Regions from separate parts of the Homo sapiens genome. Here region 1 is linked to region 2. Evidence: fine-mapped expression QTL. A gene starts in region 2. The other region holds a variant in brackets. All regions are shown on one strand. Distances are from middle to middle.

Region 1 (5,378 bases), 73 kb after region 2:
CCAGCCTGACCAACATGGTGAAACCCTGTCTCTACTAAAAATGCAAAAATTAGCCAGGCGTGGTGGCACGTGCCTGTAATCTCAGCTACTCAGGAAACTGAGGCAGGAGAATCACTTGAACCCGGGAGTCAGGGGTTCAGTGAGCCGAGATCTTGCCACTGCACTCCAACCTGTGCTACAGAGCGAGACTCCGTCTCAAAACAAAGCAAAACAAAACAAAAGGAAAAAAACATATTTTCTCTTCCAGAGAAATGGAGGATTGTTTCTTCAAGGATAAAATGAGATTTTTTGACACCTCCTGGCTTTTCGGTTGGGTTTTCTACTAATAGTAAATTGATTTGCAATGACTTTTCTCAGTTATGTAAGGTGATGTGATTTCATTTCTTGTAGGTCATTAAGAAGGCAAATGATACCTTAAATGGAATCAGTAGTAGTTCTGTTTGCACAGAAGTAATTCAGTCAGCTCAAGGCATGGAATATTTATTAGGTATGTTCTTTCATATTTTACTATTGAAAATGATGGCCCTTTGCATTATTTTCAGTTTTCCCTTTAATTATTTTAAGCTAGATCTCTCAAGTTACATATGACTTCAGTAAGAAGCATCTGTATTTGTGGGTAAGACACTCAAGCTACAGGCAGTAAACTATTGGACTTAATTAAAAAGTCTCTATGGCTAAGTTTCCTCATCCTTGTTATATACGTAATAGCAAAAATGTAAAATTATATCTGTGTTACTGGTTTATCAAAGAATCTGAACTACCGATGCACTAAAGTAAAATCATCTTGTCTCCCATCAATTCCTTACCATACTCTATATTCTTTCTCTCGACCGCTTAATGACACCACAGAGTCCTTAACCTCCTGGCCATCTGCAGCAATTTGATGTGTCAGTCCAACGGGAAAGTGTAGTCTCTGTCCACTTCGGTGTTCCTCCCTTCCCCAAGCTCAGGCTTGGCCCGTGGCCAGAGCCACACATGCTGGACCCTAATCTTTTTCAAATCTTTACTCAAATGTCAGCTTCTGAGTGAAATCTTTCCTAGCATCCATCTCTCCAAAGAGTATCGTCTCTCCCTACCCCGGTACTTCCCATCCCATTCTCTGCTGGATTTTCTCCTTAGCCCTATTACCTTTAATTTCTTACATATGTTACTTATTATTCTTTTCTTTTCTTTTCTTTTTTAAGACAGGTTCACACTCTGTCACCCAGGTTGGAGTGTAGTGATGTAGTCATGACTCACTGCAGCGTCCACCTCCCAGGCGCAAGCAATCATCCCACCTCAGCCTCCCAAGTAGCTGGAACCACAGGTGTGCACCACCATGCACCCAGCTAATTTTTGTAGTTTTTGTAGAGACAGGTTTCCGCCATGTTGCCCAGGCTGGTCTCGAACTCCTGAGCTCAAGCGACCCACCCACCTTGGCCTCCCGAAGTGCTGGGATCACAGGCGTGAGCCACTGCACCTAGCTACTTGTTGTTTTTACTCTCTGTCTCCCTTCACTAGAATGAACCTCCAAGAAGGCAAGGATTTTGGTCTGTTTTGTTCACTGGTGTGTCCCCAACACCTAATCTAGTGTCTTGCACGTAGTTGGCACTCAAAAATATTTGCTGGATGAGTGGAGAGTGAAGGGATGTAGTCTCTGCCTTACTCCTGCCACCTCACTTGGGGTCTTCTTTTCCTGCTCAAACAGGCACAGTTCTGCATAAGCAGATGTCCACCAGGAAATGGGGCACCTGTCTTTTCTCCTAGTATCCTTGTATCTATGGAAGATTCTCTTAGAAGCCCCCTCACTTGGCTTAGGGTGGGCAGTAATTTCTGCCCCTCTCTTGGGAAAGGAAGAAGAAAAGCCGTAGTGCTGACACAGGGCTGCTGAGGCCCCGCTCTGAAGATCCCCTGGAATTCCTCCAGTGTTCACTTAGAGAGATCGGGGTCATGTCTTTGGTGACTGTTACATTGCAGGGGTTAGGGATGTGTCTGGTGGCTGTCCTTAGAATGTGGAGGTACTTAGCACCTCTCATCCTTGCTTCAAGAGTTCAACCACAATTTAGAGACCATAGGAAAAGAACTGTTCTGCATCCTGTTATGTGTTTAAAGATAAGTGAAGTCAAAGTGTTTGTAAGACCTTCAGATTCAGAGGGGTGAGATGTTTCTTCATTACTTTGTGATGCTATTAACATTTAGATTCTTTTAAATTTTTACTATCCCCATTTTCAGCTAGTTTATTGGGATTTCCCAGATTCAAACAGATGGACTCATAAATAAACCTCCCAAAAAACAAAAGCTAATAACTTGCATAGTGCCTGCCATTCTCCAAGCACTGTTGTAAGCCTTTTACCATATTACCCTATTTAATCCTCTCAACCATCCTTGGAGGAGCTACTGTTACCATCCCAACTTCACAGATGAGGAAACTGAGGTACAGAGAGATTATGTGACTTGCCTAAGGTCATGTAGCCAGTAAGAGGCATAGCTGGGGTTTGAACCCAAGCAGTGCAGCTTCTATGCTCTTACCAGTAAGCTATACAGCAGCATTGAGAAGTGGATTGGTCCCAAAGAATAGTAAGTACACCTCTGTCCAGATACACCCATTGTTTCTCACAGATATCAGCAAGCAATAATGCTCCCCTGTCTGGGTCCTCTGTGTCTCCACTGCCAACACTCTCTCTCTGCTCTCTCATCCCGTCAGGTGTTGTTGAAGTGTACAGGGTAACCAAGCGTGTGGAGCTGGGGATAAAAGCCACTGCAGTGTGCAGTGAGAAACTCCAGCAGTTGCTGAAGGACATCGATAAAGT[A/G]TGGAATAACCTAATCGGCTTCATGTCACTCGCCACACTCACAGTAAGCCCATGAGACAACTCAGCAGTTGCTTTCCTTTCCAGAAACCTAAGTTGTAAAGCAGAGTGTATATTCCTATGATGGTACTTATTAGAGGCTGGAGGTGCCAACTGGAGCATGTTATATTAAAGGAGGGAGATCACAGGTGTGTGGTCAGTTGAACAGTACCAGGTGGGCTTCTGATCTCTCTAAGGCCCAGTGAACCTAAGGAAAAAACCAGTACAGGAAAACATTCACTCTGGCTACACCTTTCTTAATTCACATAATACACGGAAGTTTTGCAAAGCAGTGGTTTGAGATACTCCCTTTGCACTTCTAGTTATTTATGTCCCCATACGTGTCCTTTCAAAAAGCTATATGATACCTCATGTTGCCATCCTGTAGTTTGTTTAGCCCTTCTTTTTTTAGGTTCTTGGGTCATTTTCATTTTTCCCTGTTACGAGTAGTTCTCTGAATAGACAAATCACTGTTCCTTTGTGGGGATGTATTTCCTCCAAGTGAACTAGGAGGTCAGTGTGTGTGTCTGCACAGGTGCATGCATGCGTATGTAGCTGTTGTTACATTTATTAGAAGGCTTTCCAAATAGCTTATATTGGTTGCAATGCTACCAGAAATATGTAAGTACATGGATACATTTCTCTACATTATGTCCTATCAATTTCTTAATTTAACAAGCATGCAATTATTCCCTAAGGTATTTTTTACATTTTTTTTTTTAATTTCATGAGAGGCTTTGCAGTGTTCCAAATGACAATTTACTATTTCTGTTTCCTTTGTGTATAAACGGATTGGACTCTTCTGACCATTTGACCATTTATTCCTTGGAATATGGTTATTGACCTTATATATTTCATATTTGTAATAGATTTATATACATATATATAAGCTTGTAAACGTTTATCAGCTATTTTCCTCCTCTATTACTGTCCCTTTTTTACATTTCATTGGGCAAAACTATTTTATTTTTATATATTCATACCTATTCAATTTGTCTCTGATGATATCCTTTATTTCACAATAGTCAGAAGTTTATCTTCCTTCCACAGCTGGAATAAATATGCTATTCCAATTTTTTTTTTAACATGGAACTCTGCGACCCATCTGAATGGGATTGCAGCTGTGTGGGAGGAAGCAGTTCTAATTTTCTGAACTGATAGCCAGGTGGATACCCAGCTACCCCAACTACATGTCTTCAGCAGCACATCCTCTCACCATTGTCATGTTGCTTCTGGTTTGTAATATTAAAGTCTTTAAGAGTTTAAGTAATTTCCAAAACTTTTTCTTGTTCCCTTGAATCACTTCTCATTTTCTAACCTAAAATTGTATGTAGATAATTAAAAAAAAAAATACTGTTCTGGCAAGTGAAATAAGAAATGGAGTATTAATATTTGAAAAAAGAGATAAAATTATGTTTACTTGGTGATAATGAAATTCTTTTAAAAATCTAAATTCAAGCAGCCAGGTGCAGTGGCTCACCCCTGTCATGCCAGCACTTTGGGGAGGCTGAGGTGGGCGGATCACCTGAGCCCAGGAGTTTGAGACCAGCCTGAGCAACATGTCAAAACTCCGTCTCTACCAAAAATACAAAAATTAACCAGTCTCATAACCCGGTCTATAGATAGATAGATAGATAAAAAAATATTTTTTAATCTAAATTCAGGAGTTTAAATGTATTGCATTTGGCAAAAATTCATAACAATCCTACATATTATTAGTAGTTAGAAAATATGATGAAATTAGGCTGGGCATGGTGGCTCATGCCTGAATCCCAGCACTTTGGGAGGCCAAGGCGGGCAGAACAATTGAGGCCAGGAGTTCGAGACCAGCCTGGCCAAAATGGTGAAACCCCATCTCTACTAAAAATACAAAAAAAAAAAAAATTAGCTGGCCATGGTAGCGGGTGCCTGTAATCCCCACTACTCAGGAGGCTGAGGCAGGAGAATTGCTTGAACCCGGGAAATGGAGGTTGTAGTAAGCTGAGATCGTGCCACTGCATTCCAGCCTAGGTGACAGAGCAAGACTCTGTCTCAAAAAAAAAAAAAAAAAAAAAAAAAAGAAAAGAAAATGAAGTTTAGAAACCTTATTTTTTTTGTTAGAAAATATAACGAAGGCCTTAGTGGCTGATGCCTGTAATCCCAGCACTTTGGGAGGCCGAGGTGGGTGGATCACCTGAGGTCGGGAGTTCGAAACCAGCCTGACCAACCCCGTCTGTACTAAAAATACAAAATTAGCTGGGTGTGGTGGTGCATGCCTGTAATCCCAGCTACTTGGGAGGCTGTGGCAGGAGAATTGCTTGAACCCAGGAGTCGGAGGTTGCAGTGAGCTGAGATCACACCACTGCCCTCCAGCCTGGGCAACAGGAGTGAATCTCTGTCTCAAAAAAAAAAAAAAAAGAAAAAGAAAAGAAAGAAAATATAATGAAATTAGAAATCTTTTTTAAAAAAATTATTAACTAATTCAAGCCCTTATCACTTTTGAACTTCTGACCTCATAGCTAGGGTTACTGGTTCCATTTTTTTTTTAATCTCCTAGCAATCTATTCTGCACAC
Region 2 (5,320 bases):
TCCCGAGTTGCTGGGACTACAGGCATGCGCCACCACACCCAGCTAATTTTTGTATTTTTAGTGACAGGGTTTCACCATGTTGGCCAGGCTGGTCTCAAACTCCTGACCTGGAGTGAGCCACTATATCCGGCCTTTATAAACTTTTTTGATTCTTGTCATAACACTTAGCCTAAAATGCAAATGTACAGCTGTAGAAAAATACTTTATTTCTTTATATCCTTATTCTAGAAGCTTTTTTTCTATTAATTTTTGTTTGTTTGTTTTGTTTTACTATTTACTTCTAAAACTTTTTTGTTAAAAACCATGGCACAAACACACACATTATGCTAGGCATACAAAAGGTCAGGATCATCAGTCTCACTGTCTTCCACCCCCACTTCTCATCCCACCATTGTATCTGCTGTCTGTGGCTGACCAAAACATCATCATGTAGCACATGACTAGTGTGGCAAGTGCTCTGTTAGATGTAAGGCCATGATGCTAAAGCATCACAAGAGGGCATCTAACCCAGATTGGGGATGTCATGGAAGGCCGACATCCTGAGTTGAATCCTGCAAATGTAAAAACCAATAGGCAAAGAAGAGGAACAAAAAGGATTCCAGGACAAACTGAGGTCACATCTATGATCCTTGACTTTATTGTGTCTGTTTAAAGTATCTACAGTAACCTGTATCAACTTAGTCAGTGTATTAATACTAAATTTAGCTCCTTCAAAGCAGTTGGAACTATGTGCTACATAAATTTCAGCTTCACACAAGGAAGGGAAGGAGTGAAATTAGTGAACAGGCAGTTACAGCAAAAGAAAAAACATAAAAATTGAATAGCTGGCTCTGGTGAAATGAGCAAGGACTTTAGAGTCAAACTGGCCTGGATTTGAATCCTGATCCTCATTGCTTGTAGCTGTATGATCTGGACAAATGACAGTAACTGTTTCTAACCTTGATTTTCTCATCTGTAAGATGCCAATTGTAACTCCTAAGGATACTGAGGATTTTTTAAAATGCGTGTACAGTTCCTGACCAGTGGTTTGTGCCTAATAACTTATTACAAATTATTACCCAGTAAAAACCTTGAGACAAGAGTGAAAACGTAAAGCTAATTAATCCATTACTTGTTAGCAAGCAAACTACGTGCTTGAGAAAATTACTCAACTTTCATGTTTTACTTCCAGACAGTAGTTTGATTAAAAGAAAAAAAAAAATCACAGCCCAGGCATGTGGCTCACACCCTGGCACTTGGAGGCCGAGGTGGGAGCATAGCTTGAGCCTAGCAGTTTGAAACTAGCCTGGGCAACATAGATCCTATCTCTACAAAAAAAAAAAAAAAAAAAAAAAAAAAAATTGGCCCGGTGTGGTGGTGCATGCCTGTGGTCCCAGCTACTCAGGAGGCTGAGGCGAGAGGATCGCTTGAGCCAGGGAGGCTGAGGCTGCTGTGAGCCATGATCATGCCACTGCACTCCAGCCTGGACAACAGAGCAAGACCCTGTCTCAAAAAAAAAAAAAATCAGTAAAAAATATGCCGAAATAGCTTCAGAGTAATTATGAATTGCCTTCCAAAAACCACTGTTTTGCACTTGCCTGCAAGAATAGGAAAAACAAAAGGACTGTAAGGTGGCAGGATGGCAGAACCAAACAAGAGTAGTACACCTTGGAGTTTTTTCGAAATATGGGTTGGGTTTTTGGGCTCTTGGTTGATTTAAAATAAAATTTAAATGCCTTCAGCGTCTGTGATAGGTGCCAACATGAAGCTACCGAGTTCCAGAGAAAGAGGGGAGAGCTGATCACTCATCAGTGCTGCGAGACTATCAAAGGGCCCTTCAGGACCTATCTGTTCTTTGTGTGTAAAGAGTAACAATAAAAGAACACCAGTGTACCCACCGTATAGTTTAAAAATCAGGACTCAGCCTACTCTTTCCACTAACCGCGATCATGGTTTTCAAACGGAGGACCAACGGCGCTTTGCCACTGGGCCGCCAGCTGGGCCCTGCAGAGGGCCTACCAGACAATGAATCAGCTCCCTTGGAGAGGCGCCCGCGACCGCCCCACCAGCCCGAGAGCTAGAATTGAATCTGGGGGACCCCTGCGGCGCCGGGTCACGTGCCGTGGGCGCGCCACGCCTCCCCGAGGGCCGGGGGAGTCACGTGGGCGCGAGGCCCCGCCCCATCGCCCGGTCCGCGGCGAGGTGGGGCCTGGTGTTTGACCCGGAAGTGGCTGTGTTCAGCTGACAGCTGCTGATAAGGTGGCGGCGGCGAAGGCAGCGGCAGGTCGGGAGCAAGATGGCGCTGCGGCCAGGAGCTGGTTCTGGTGGCGGCGGGGCCGCGGGAGCTGGCGCGGGGTCCGCCGGGGGAGGCGGGTAGGTGTGAAGAGCCGGGCGGGAGCCCGCTGGCCTCCGCGGGGGCGGCGAGGGGCGCTTGGCAGTTATGGCAGTTTTCTCCAGCCCTGATCCTTTTCCTTGGAACTGGGCTGCGGGAGGAGGGTCATCCCCCAGGGACCCAGGCCGAAAGGGGCGTGTGGAGCCCAGGTGCTGGACGCTGGTGTTCCGGGATCAGTTGGGGGCGCCGGCCGCCTGGAATCGAGCGGGGAGCGAGCGCGCGCCCAGTGTGGGAGGGGAGAGAAGATGAGGGTCCTCTTGGGGTGGGGGGGGGCGGGGCAAATCAGGAACCGCGACTCCGCTCCTAGTCCTAGCTGCCTCTGAAGCGACCAGGGTCTTCCCTTTCCTTGGGCTTTCTAGACTTAACCGGATATGTTGGAGGGAGGGCTTTAAAAATCTGTTCACAAAGCTGGAGGACTGTTTCCAAGGGGGGTGTGTGTGTGGACTATTTGTCTCTTCCCCTTTTAGAGTGTCCTGTCCTCTTTATTTCCTTAACCCGCGACAAACAGCAGGAACATCTAAAGACCTCTGAATTAGTAATGGTCTTGAGATAGAGTTCTTGTCTTGTACACTAACTCTTAAGACTTGTCTGTCTTCTTTTTAAAAAGGCATTTAAAAACAAAGAAAGTGCACTGTTAAACAGCAGTTGCGCATTTATTAGAACAAAGCTTCCAGACTCAGCCCTTAAACAAATCTGCCCTCTGCCACATTTCAGCCAAGAACTGCCGTGGTTCTTATACCCAGAATGGTAAGGGAGATGTACGTTTTACAAGCTGACAGATTCGTTATCATTTAAGGAAATATTTTATTCTAGGAAGTTTTCACTCCACTTCTATAATGACCTAGTCTGATTTTGTTTTACTAACCAACACACAACAGCACACACATTTGGAGGTAAAAGTAGCTTTGCATCTTCAGTATCCTAAATTGTCTTTGGAAAACGAAGTGTTAGGTTTTTTTTTTATATGCAGTGTTTCAATTTCGGAGTCGTGAACACTACAAAAGTGTAAGGACCTTAAAGTTATCACCTCTTGCAGGTGCTTGTCAGGAAACGAGCAGTGGCTGTTCAATAAACCACCTGTGTGTAACCCCATTTTTCATTTCCTCTGCACATCTTTAACTTTAGATTTTTAAACTTTTTGCTTTCTCTTTTGTTCTCTCCGTTGTTTCATTAGAGGGTTTTTTAAAAAATAAATACTTCGTGTAAGCCAGTTTCTGGCTGGAGAAGAAACATATGTAATAATTCCCTTCTATTTGTTTTTTCTTTTTCTTTTGTCTTGTTTTTTTTTTTTTTTTTTTTTTTTTGAGAGGAAGTCTTGCTCTGTTGCCCAGGCCAGAGTGCGGCGGCGTGATCTCGACCCGCTGCAACCTCTGCCTCCTGGGTCCAAGCGATTCTCTTGCCTCAGCCTCGGAGCAGCTGGGATTACAGGTGCGCGCCACCATGCCCGGCTAATTTTGTTGATTGATCGATTGAGACAGAGTCTCGTTCTGTCACCCAGGCTAGAGTGCAGTGGCACGATGTCGGCTCACTGCAACCTCGACCTCCCGGGTTCAAGCGATTCTTCTGCCTCAGCCTCCCAAGTAGCTGGGATTACAGGCGTGCGCCACCACGCCCAGCTAATTTCTGTATTTTTAGTAGAGACGGGGTTTCACCATGTTAGCCAGGCTGGTCTCAAACTCCTGGCCTCAAGTGATCCGCCCACCTTGGCCTCCCAAAGTTCTAGAATTACAGGCTTGAGTCACCACGCCCGGCATCCTCTATTTATTTCCTATATGTGATTACAGTTTCTAAAATGTCCCTGGATGGTATTAATTTGATCAAGTATATGATTAATCATGGCACCAAGTTCTGGGAAAATGTAAACTTAGAAGAATTGATATCTAGGCCCAAATTTTTATTTACTTAAAAAATGTTTTTGGATGGGGAGGACCTCAGGTTCAGAAATTCAAGTGCATTATTCCCTTTAGTTTGCAGTATTTGAGTATCATTGGTCCATGGACACAAATTTTTAAAATAAATATGGGTTGAATTTTGATAGAAATTAGAATGATTTTAAAATTTCCCCCCTTTGTAAATGTAGCAACATCTGCATTCTAAAACTGTAAACGATATACAGGAGAGAAAGAAGTGGTTAAAATGATTCTTACCTTGAAAAATGTATGGTACATATGTTACATATATTGGCAACTTTCTGAGGCTGAGAAGCTGTATCCTCAATAGAAAAAGGAATATTATTTTTTTTAGAGAGTAATGGTGTAAAGGCTGAAGTTATTTTATTTCCTTTTTAATTTTCTTTTTGCCACCCACCCTCCCTGAAATTATTTTATAAGGAAACTTAACATTATGGCAACCTAAGTATATTTGAAGAAAAAAAACAGGCAACTTCTCTACACCTTTAATGGAGAAAATCCATGAACTATAACTGACTGTATTGTTTAGATACTTCTCTATATTCTAAGAGGCTAAGCAAAACACAATAACGTTTTCCAAATTTAATATTACCCTACTTTTGATTGGTGTCCTGGATGAGCTACTTTAGAATAAATGGTAGAGTTGTATAAAGGGCAAAATTTGCCCAAGAGATGAGAAGTATAAATTTTTTTTTTCTTTAATCAAGGCAGAAAAAAAAAAGAGTTGAAAGATCTGGATTAGTCTGTAGTCATTGAATGCTTACATGGGTAAGGTACTGTTCTTGATGCTGTAATGAATTAAAAAGACATCAAAACATGGTCCCCATCCTTGGAGAATGTACAAAATAACTGTGGTACAAAGTAAAGTGGAACAAAGAGGTCACGTTCTTCTGGGATGTTATCATCTGTGAACTTGTCTATTTTTTCCTGATCTTTTACAAGCTTTTAGAGGGCTTCCTCATCTTTTCTTCTTTCACTGCTTCTAGCACATTTTTGCACATAAAAAACATTCTGTAAATATTTGTGGATTTCAGCTATA

Alleles and levels. Positions count from the first base shown, and alleles are read on the strand shown. Sizes are in standard deviations (SD) of each study's normalised expression.
With allele G in place of A in region 1, the expression in fibroblasts of the gene that starts at base 2,213 in region 2 is lower (small effect, 0.33 SD a copy in GTEx).

What was found.
Region 1: its variant is fine-mapped to the expression of SYNRG in fibroblasts (GTEx, PIP 0.97).

What each region holds. Positions count from the first base shown.
Region 1 is chr17:37,533,433-37,538,810 of GRCh38, reverse strand. It overlaps SYNRG (synergin gamma), which reads left to right. Exons shown (of 22, transcript NM_007247.6): 18 at 391-487; 19 at 2,684-2,832. Among named protein-coding and RNA genes, the nearest start is that of DUSP14, 46 kb to the right of the region's middle. The variant A/G (reference allele first, on the strand shown) is at 2,790.
Region 2 is chr17:37,606,311-37,611,630 of GRCh38, reverse strand. It overlaps SYNRG (synergin gamma), which reads left to right and starts at 2,213. Exons shown (of 22, transcript NM_007247.6): 1 at 2,213-2,352. The coding sequence starts at 2,276. DDX52 (DExD-box helicase 52) reads left to right here. Exons shown (of 15, transcript NM_007010.5): 15 at 1-1,892.